2 linked regions of the Homo sapiens genome follow. The protein of the gene in region 2 interacts with the protein of the main gene of each other region in a pairwise test. Each region holds a gene or a part of one and is shown on either strand. Other genes may lie near its edges.

Evidence for each region.
Region 1: the proteins of CAAP1 (region 2) and PTN interact in a two-hybrid assay, tested with the Homo sapiens proteins (one large-scale study listed by BioGRID and IntAct).

Annotation. Positions count from the first base shown.
Region 1 is NC_000007.14:137,249,734-137,253,233, forward strand, and holds part of PTN (pleiotrophin isoform 1 precursor), read right to left. Parts: intron 1,659-3,500; coding exon 1,497-1,658; intron 1-1,496.
Region 2 is NC_000009.12:26,884,961-26,890,689, reverse strand, and holds part of CAAP1 (caspase activity and apoptosis inhibitor 1), read left to right. Parts: intron 1-3,176; coding exon 3,177-3,377; intron 3,378-4,501; coding exon 4,502-4,586; intron 4,587-5,729. UniProt on the Homo sapiens protein: Anti-apoptotic protein that modulates a caspase-10 dependent mitochondrial caspase-3/9 feedback amplification loop.

The DNA of each region.
Region 1 (3,500 bases), on a different chromosome or scaffold from region 2:
CTGCATAAGTACTCACTGCAGTCACTCCAGCCCTGCTTCATGCCTTCCAAAAACCATATGACAACAGGCAGAGATTTCCATGATCTGGAAAGGGCAGCCTGAACCCTAGACTCACCACCTGCAGGTCCAGCCTGTACCTGGCCATCCTGAAGTTGGAGATAACTATTTCTATGGACAACTCCAGCAGTGGCCAAAAAGCCAGGCCTGTGAAAAATAAAGTCCTTTCTGGCCACCAGCAGGAAACCAGCCAATCTCCATCACCTTCTGCAGATTTTTTTTTTCTACTTTTATTTATTATGAGCATTTCTTACATGGTCATTTTTCTGAATCTCTCCTTACAATTTCTCTGGCAGTATGAATTTTCAGGACCACCTTAGAGTTAAAATATATGAGTAGAGGCCAAGAAGGTATTTGAATTTAGAGTTCATTGAGTCCCATTGTATTAGTTGGCTATAGCTCCTATAACAAAGTACCACAGAGTTGGTGGCTTAAACAACAGAAATTTATTTATTTATTGTCTTGCAGTTCTGGAAGCTACAAGCCTAAGATCAAGGCATCTGTAGGGCTGATTTCTTCTGAAGGTTCTCCCTATGGCTTGTAGATGGCATTCTTCTCCCTCTGTCTTCACACAGTCTTCTCTCTATGTATTTCTGTGTCCTAATCTCCCTTCTTATAAACACACCAGCTGCACTGGATTAGGGCCTACCCTTGTGACTGCATTTTATCTCAATTACCTCTTTAAAGACCCTGTCTCCAATACAGTGACATTGTGAGGGGGTTAAAACTTCAGCATATGAATTTGGGAAAACACAATTCAGACAATAACATCCATGATGAAAGAGTTTATTTCCCTCAGTTGGGATCCTTGTATGTATGAATTCATGGCCATAATGATTGTTTTTACCTTCTCCAGCAAGAGAGCAGAGCCTGACTTTCTGGGAGATACAGATCTCTGTCATTTAAAAATTCTGTGATGAATGTAGTTGGTAACCAAATTGAACTCAAAAAATATAAAGGCTCTGAAAACAAATGCAGAACCCATTAAGTTATGCAGTGAATAAAGGGAAAATGTAAAATAATTTTCCTGATTTTGTGAAAACTATATTTCAGATAATCTGGGAGAAGTTTGATTTAAAATTGTCTCCGTCATAAACATTCTGAGTTTGTTTTTCTTGTCAGGATACAGTTCCAATTAAGAGTGTGGAATATATGGTCATCATACAACTGTCTTTGCTGGTTTCTTTTGCTATGTTATTTATTTGGGTTAGGAGACTGTACCAATCCCCTCATCTATGCAGAGGACTTCAATTTGCACTCACAGGCTGCCTGCTTCAAAGTATTTTTAAAGTATTTTTGTGACTCTCAGTGTAGGGGAGTTTTTCAGTCACTTTCTTAAGGTAATTCACCTAATATTTCCTTCTGGAAAATGTGGGTTTTCCAGATCTTACCTGAGTCCATCAATCCATTAAAATTGTGGTATAATGGCAAGGACTTACCTTGAGGTTTGGGCTTGGTCAGTTTGCCACAGGGCTTGGAGATGGTGACAGTCTTCTGGCATTCGGCATTGTGCAGGGCTCGCTTCAGACTTCCAGTTCTGGTCTTCAGGGCTGTGTTCAGGTCACATTCTCCCCAGGCCTGGAACTGGTATTTGCACTCCGCTAAAGGCAGGGTAGAACCAAACAGAAATCCTTGAAAGATCCTATCGTACTTCCAGGATAATAAAGGCACACTTTTGTTTGTAACTTTTTTATTGAAATAATTATAGATCCATATGCAGCTATAAGAAATAATACAGAGTGTATGCGTGTGTATTGATTTCTGTTCAATTCTATCACATGTGTAGATGCATACGATCACCATCAATATACACCATTAATACACACTAATATACACTATTAATATACAGTCCCAATACAACAGTGGGTCATTCTTTATAGTCATGGCCTAGCCACCTTCCTCCTTCCCCACCTCCTTAATCCCCGGCAACTCCTTATCTGTTCTCTAGCTCTATCATTTTTCTAGCTTAAAAATGTTGCATAAATGGAATTCTACAATATGTAAACTTCTGAGATTGGCTTTTTTATTTAGCATAATTTCCTGAAGATCCATCCAAGTCATGTGCATCAATAGTCTGTTTCTTCCTATTGCTGAGTAGTATTCCATGGTCCCAATGTACCCCAGTTTGTTTAACCATTCATCAGCTGAAGGACATCCGAGTTGTTACCAGCCTTGGGTTACTACAAATAGAACTGCTATATAAATTCATGTATAGGTTTTTGTGGAAACATCAGTTTTCATTTCTCTGAGATAAATTACCAAGAAACTGCTGTGTTACATGGTAAATGCATGTTTCATTTCGTAAAAAACTGCAATACTCTTTTTCCACTGTGGCTGTACCACCTTACAATTTCCACTGGCAACATATGAGGGATCTGGTTTCTTGGCACCCTCACTAGCATTTCGTCTTGTCACTATTTTTTATTCTAGCCACTTTGATAGATGTAGAGTGATATCTCATTATGGTTTCAATTTCTAGTTCCCTAATAAGGAAAAGATGCTGAATATATTTTCAGGAGTTCATTTGTTGCCTATATATCCTCTTTGGTAAAATGTCTGTTAATGTTTTTTCCCCACTTTCTTATTGAACTGTTAGGTTTTGTTTGTTTTGTTTTTTGTTGTTGTTGTTTTGTTGTTTACTGTTGAGTTTGAGAGTTATTTAATATTCTCAATGTAAGTCTTTAAGATATACCTTTTAAACTTTTTGTAAGTGGGTTTTTAAGGTGCCCATATACAATTTAAGACCAAATGTACCTGTTCTCCATCACACTTTTATAGAACTTGTCTATATCCATTCAAATAAAAAATACCCCAAAGATTACAGAGGGAGAAAAAGACATACATGTATACATCCATTATCCTTCCTCACTTGTCTATGGGCCACAATGCATTTCCATAGAACACAGATAGGACATTTCAGGCATCATGTCCCACTATGGCTAAGAAAGACAAAAAGTCTGGATTGTGGAAGAGGTTATTTGAGGGTTCAATACTGGATATAAAGTTGAAAGTGTTGAGAGATCCTGTCTCAGATAGATAGATCAGGCCAGCATAAGACTGACTCCAGTCAGTGGGAGAAAGATTTATGAAACGTGGCTGTGAGCAGCCCTGCTGAACTCAGTAAGTGAATCTGTGAAACTGTGTGGAGGTTGGGGAGGGATCAAATGGGAGAGAAGGTCTGAAAGTGACAGGGAGAAACATGGAGAAGCAGGAGAATAAATAAGAAAAGGGGAAAGGAAAAATCAAAGGAACTTAGAAATAGAAGAAAGGAGAGAGAAGACAGATCAATTAACATTATTCAGAGGAATCAAGGATATATTTTATGTCCCTTTGGAAAGGCAGTGGTTCCCAACCAGGGATGATTTTGACCAACAGGGTACATTTGGCCATAGATATTTGGAGACATTTTTAGTTTTCACATCTGGAGCGGGTGAGGAATGCTA
Region 2 (5,729 bases):
ACAGGCGTGAGCCACCGTGCCCGGCCAACTTTTATGTATATGTTTCTAAATTAGATCAGACTGTAGTTTTTATTTTTGTAATGGATTGAATTAGGAAGCTTTGTGTTTTTTTGGTGTGTTCTAGAATGGTTTATATTTTCTTCTCAAATATTTGTCAGAAGTATCTGGGTCTAGTGGAGTTTTTTAGAGTGATTTTTTAAGACACTCTTTAAAAAAATTATTTAATATAGATCTATTCAGTTTTCCCACCCCTTCTAGATTCAGTTTTGGATATTACCATTCTTATTTTAAATAGTTTCCTTTTTTTTTTTCTTTTTTTGAGATAGGCTCTCACTGTGTCGCCCAGGCTGGAGTGCAGTGGCACCATCTCAGCCCACTGCAACCTCCGCCTGCCAGGTTCAAGTAATTGTCCTGGCTCAGTCTCCTGAGTAGCTGGGATTACAGGTGCCCGCCACCATGGCCAGCTAATTTTTGTATTTTTAATAGAGGTAAGGTTTTCACCATGTTGGTCAGGCTGGTTTCCAACTCCTGACCTCAGGTGATCCACTCGTCTCAGCCTCCCAAAGTGCTGGGATTACAGGCGTGAGCCACCGCGCCTGACCAGTTTCCCACTCCGTTATGATGGGGAGACCAACAACACTGGTCAATTGAATATTGAAAACATTTTGCGTACAGAACTAAACCCATCTTCTAATGAAAAATTAGTGTATTTGTGAAGAAAAGGTCATTGCATATTAGGCATGTAGATAACATTTCAAACTTTAGAGAGTGCCATTATATCTGTTGTGTATTGAGGTTCCTTTTTTTTTTTTTTTTTTTTTTGAGACAGAGTCTCGCTCTGTCGCCCAGGCTGGAGTGCAGTGGCGTGATCTCGGCTCACTGCAAGCGCCGCCTCCTGGGTTCACGCCATTCTCCTGCCTCAGCCTCCAGAGTAGCTGGGGCAACAGGCCTCTGCCACAACGCCCAGTTAATGCTTTTGTATTTTTAGTAGAGACAGGGTTTCACCGTGTTAGCTAGGATAGTCTAGATCTCCTGACCTTGTTATCTGCCCCCCTCAGCCTCCCACCTCGGCCTCCCAAAGTGCTGGGATTACAGCTGTGAGCCACTCTGCCCGGCCGAGTTCCCTATTTTCTTGGGAAGAACTTTATTGAAATGTAGTTGACATACTGTGCAATTCACCCATTTCACATGTACAGTTAAGTGATTTTGTATATATTCAGAGTTGTACAACCGTCACTACAGTCAGTTTTTGTTTTTGTTTTTGTTTTTTTGAGATAGAGTTTCCCTCTTGTTGCCCAGACTGGAGTGCAATGGCGCCATCTCGGCTCACTGCAACCTCCGCCTCCTGGGTTCAAGCAATTCTTCTGCCTCAGCCTCCCGAGTAGTTGGGATTACAGGCACCCGCCTCCACACCCAGCTAATTTTTCTGTTTTTTATTAGACACGGGGTTTCACCATGTTGGCCAGGCTGGTCTCGAACAGCTGACCTCAGGTGATCCGTTCGCCTCAGCCTCCCAAATTGCTGGGATTACAGGCGTGAGCCACCGCGCCGGCCTAGTCAGTTTTAAAATATTTTCATCACTCCAGAAAGCAACCTTATGTGTAACGTTTAGTTTATATAATATGTGGTGTTTTGTGTCTGGCATCTTTTACTTAACATAATGTTTTTAAGATTCATCCATGTTGTAGCACATAGGGTTCATTCCTTTGTATCACAGAGATTCATGCCTTTTTATGGTTACTATACCACATTTTGTTTTGTTTTTGTATAGCTGTACATATGTACCACATACGTATAGATAACGCTATACAGCATTTCATTTTTCCATTTATCACTTGATGGGCATTTGTGTTGTTTCTGCCTTTTGGCTATATGAATAATGCTGTTAAGAACAAGTACAAGTTTTTGTGTAGACATATCGTTACATTTCTCTTGGGTATATATCTAGCAATGGAATTGCTGGGTCATATGGTAACTTTTTGAGGAACTGCCAAATTAGCTTCCAAAGTAGCTGCACAATTTTATATTCCTGCTAACAGTGTATGAGGATTCCAGTTTCTCTACATTATTACATTGTAAACTGTTAGAACAAGTGCTGATTCTTTTACTTTTTCAGTCTAATTATCATAGTGTTCATTAAAACTGACCCATTTTAAAACTGCTTTGTAAACAACTATCTGACCTCTGTGGTCAGGGAAGATTTTCCAGAGGAAATGACTGTTGAATTGTCTGAAGTATCTGAATTTGTTAATCTTGTGAATATAGTGTGATAGATAAAGGAGGGAGGAAAGACTGTCATAGGAAAATGGTATGCAAAAGCCCTGCTTCTATGAGCTGAAGGAAGGAGAATAGGTTACAGTCGAGTAATTCAAAGAAGATTGTGTCCTAAACACAAAGAATGAGCATGAAGGCCAGGTAGGCCATATTACCTTAGGAGCAATGGGAATTCATTGAAGAGTTTTAAACAAGAAGGATGAGTACGTATACATTTTATAAAATCCATTCTGCTAACAGTGTACAAAACAAAGAGACCTCAGATTAGATGCAGGGAGTCCCATTAAATGGCTATTGGTGTAACCCAGGCAAAAAATTGTGGTAGTTTGGAACAGAATTATGGCAGTAGATTTGGAGAGACTGGATAGAGTTGGGAGACAGAAAGTAAAATGGACAGAAATATCTTAAATTACTGAAATTACTTGGTTACTTTGATTATGATTATAAAGTTTTAAAAATGATGATAGCTCCTGGTACGTATGTTACTTTTCTGTATAATATTTGTGATTTGTAACATCTTTACTTCAATTTATTTATATGAATTTAAGTACAGTGATAATGCATACATAGAGCTTTTGGGTGAATGGCCTTTTAGGGGAAAATCCTAATTCTTCAAAAGTCTAAAATTTTAAGAAATTATTCAATATTTACTATACTTTTGTTTGTGTATCCTAAATATCTCTTCCCTTATAGCTACTCCTTGAGTTAATTGCAGTGTGGAGAGAAAAATCAAGTAATATTAAACAGATATTCTCTCCTATGGTTTTGATAAATAATTATGCAAAGAATTTGGGAATTTTTGATGAAGAAGAATTTATTAAATGAAAACGTATGATGTCATGTACGTATTCTTTATATTTTAAGTAGTATTGTTTAATGGTTCTTTATTCTTTTAACTTTAGGAAACTAAATATATTTTGCCAACTTTGGAAAAAGAATTATTCTTGGCAGAGCACAGTGACCTTGAAGAAGGTGGACTGGACCTGACTGTGTCATTGAAACCAGTTAGTTTCTATATATCAGACAAAAAAGAAATGCTTCAGCAGTGCTTCTGTATTATAGGAGAGAAAAAGTTACAGAAGATGCTTCCTGATGTGTTAAAGGTACTTCATTACACATCAGACTAGATACATATGTAGAAATACAGCCTTCTTTGTAGCAATTTTTTGTTTTACTTAATGCGGTTTTGTTTGTTTGTTTTTTTGAGACGGAGTCTTGCTCTGTCGCCCAGGCTGGAGTGTGGTGGCGTGATCTTGGCTCACTGCAACCTCCGCCTCCCGGGTTCAAGCAATTCTCTTGCCTCAGCCTCCTGAGTAGCTGGGACTACAGGCATGAACCACCATGCCCGGCTAATTTTTGGATTTTTAAGAGACGGGGTTTCACCGTGTTGGCCAGGCTGGTCTCGAACTCCTGACCTCGTGATCTGCCCACCTTGGCCTCCCAAGGTGTTGGAATTACAGGTGTGAGCCACCGTGCCTGGCGTTAATGCAGTTTTTAATTGGATGTTTACATCTAAAATAAGCTACTTGAAAAGATTTTGTAAAATAGAGAACCATAATATATTTGGTTCTTGGAGCCTTGTATATTTAAAAATTTGCCACGAAGAAATGTTTAGGCAAGAAATGTGTTGACTCTGTGGAGATAATTCTGTTAAATGCAGGGAATGATAGTAACTAAATTGGACATACAATCTTTATGGTGCTTTAAGAAATAATGTCACAATATGCTGCTGTGTAACAACAAACAGCAATGGTTAATAATAGCTTATATTTCATTAGATTCACAAGTATTTTTATTTATTTTTGAAAATTATTTAGGGAAATATTTGTTGTTTTAATTTTACAGTTGTAGAAATTGGCCTTGGTCACTAAAGTTAAGCCTGAGATCATATATCTAAAGATACAAGACTTGAATATTTAAACCTTTAGAATAATTACTTAACATAAATAGACTGCTTAAGAATAGCTGGGAAACTGACTCACTCTTTAGTTTTTTTCTTTGATAGTAAATACAAGTTTATGCATTCCCTTCAAATATGCAGTGTTCACATATTAACTGGCAGTTTTTCAGATTTCATCCCAGGAAAAGATGTATGTGAATCTACTTGAGGCTTTAATTTATTTTATTGTAAGATTTTGCTAACTTAAATTTTTATGATTGAAATTTTCCAGTTTACATTGGGGCTGTGTTACATAAATGCATTTTTTTAAAATGTCATTTCCTTTAGAACTGTTCAATAGAAGAAATTAAAAAACTATGCCAGGAACAGTTAGAGCTCCTGTCTGAAAAAAAAATTTTGAAGATTCTTGAGGGTAAGAATACATATTTTTACATTCTGGCAACTTCTTAGTTAATACTATATTCAGCATAAATCCTGAGGTATTCTTTCTCCTACTTGGATATTTAATTTCATTATTGGGTTGTTGTTGAAGAGTATTTTTACTTCTATTTGCACTAAAAAATATAGTTTACATATCAGAAAAGCGTTTCAAGAATAGACAATATATTGTTTTTCCAGGTCAAGTGTATATAGGTAAGAGTATAACTAATAAAATGAAATAAAAAATGTTTACCAAAAATCTGTAAAAAAATTAATTATTGGAAAGGCAAAGATTTCCCTTAAAATCTTTTTAATTTTCTGCTTTAGATTTTTTATAGTGTTTAGTCACCTATTGCATATTGTTTACTCTCTAATAAGACCCAGATATAGAGTTAGAATACTTCCATGCAATTTACCAATATTTGTTTGTCTGCCTGTAGTGTGACTACTCTTGGTGATACTCACACCTCTAGAATTTTGGATTATCAGGCATTTTTTTTTTCTTTTGGGACTTTGCAAGGATTTTAGCTTTAACATGACAGAAGAAGAAACAAAAATTGGAGCCTTTCAGTTTCCAGTGATAGCTTCATTTTTAAATGTAAAATTGATGGCATTTTGTAACTCTGGAAATAGATATATACATATGTACATAGTGTGTAAGTGTATATACACACATTGTTGTCTGTATACATTTATATAATAGAGAAAAAGAAGTCAATGAGGCCGGGCGCGATGGCTCACGCCTGTAATCCCAGCACTTTGGGAGGCTGAGGCGGGCGGATCACAAGGTCAGGAGTTCGAGACCAGCTTGGCCAACATAGTGAAACCCCGTCTCTACTAAAAATACAAAAATTAGCCGGGCGTGGTGGCGGGCGCCTGTAGTCCCAGCTGCTCGGGAGGCTGAGGCAGGAGAATTGCTAGAACCCGGGAGGTGGAGGTTGCAGTGAGCCGAGGTCATGCCACTGCACACCAGCCGGGGTGACAGTGTGACACTCCGTCTAAAAAAAAAAAAAAAAAAAAAGCAATGAGAAATACCTAATAAGGCATTGAAAAAATTATTTTAAATACAAGCAATTAAAAATTTAAGTTTTGACCCAGTATAAAGTTCTTTAATCTGCATCACTTTTAAAGATTA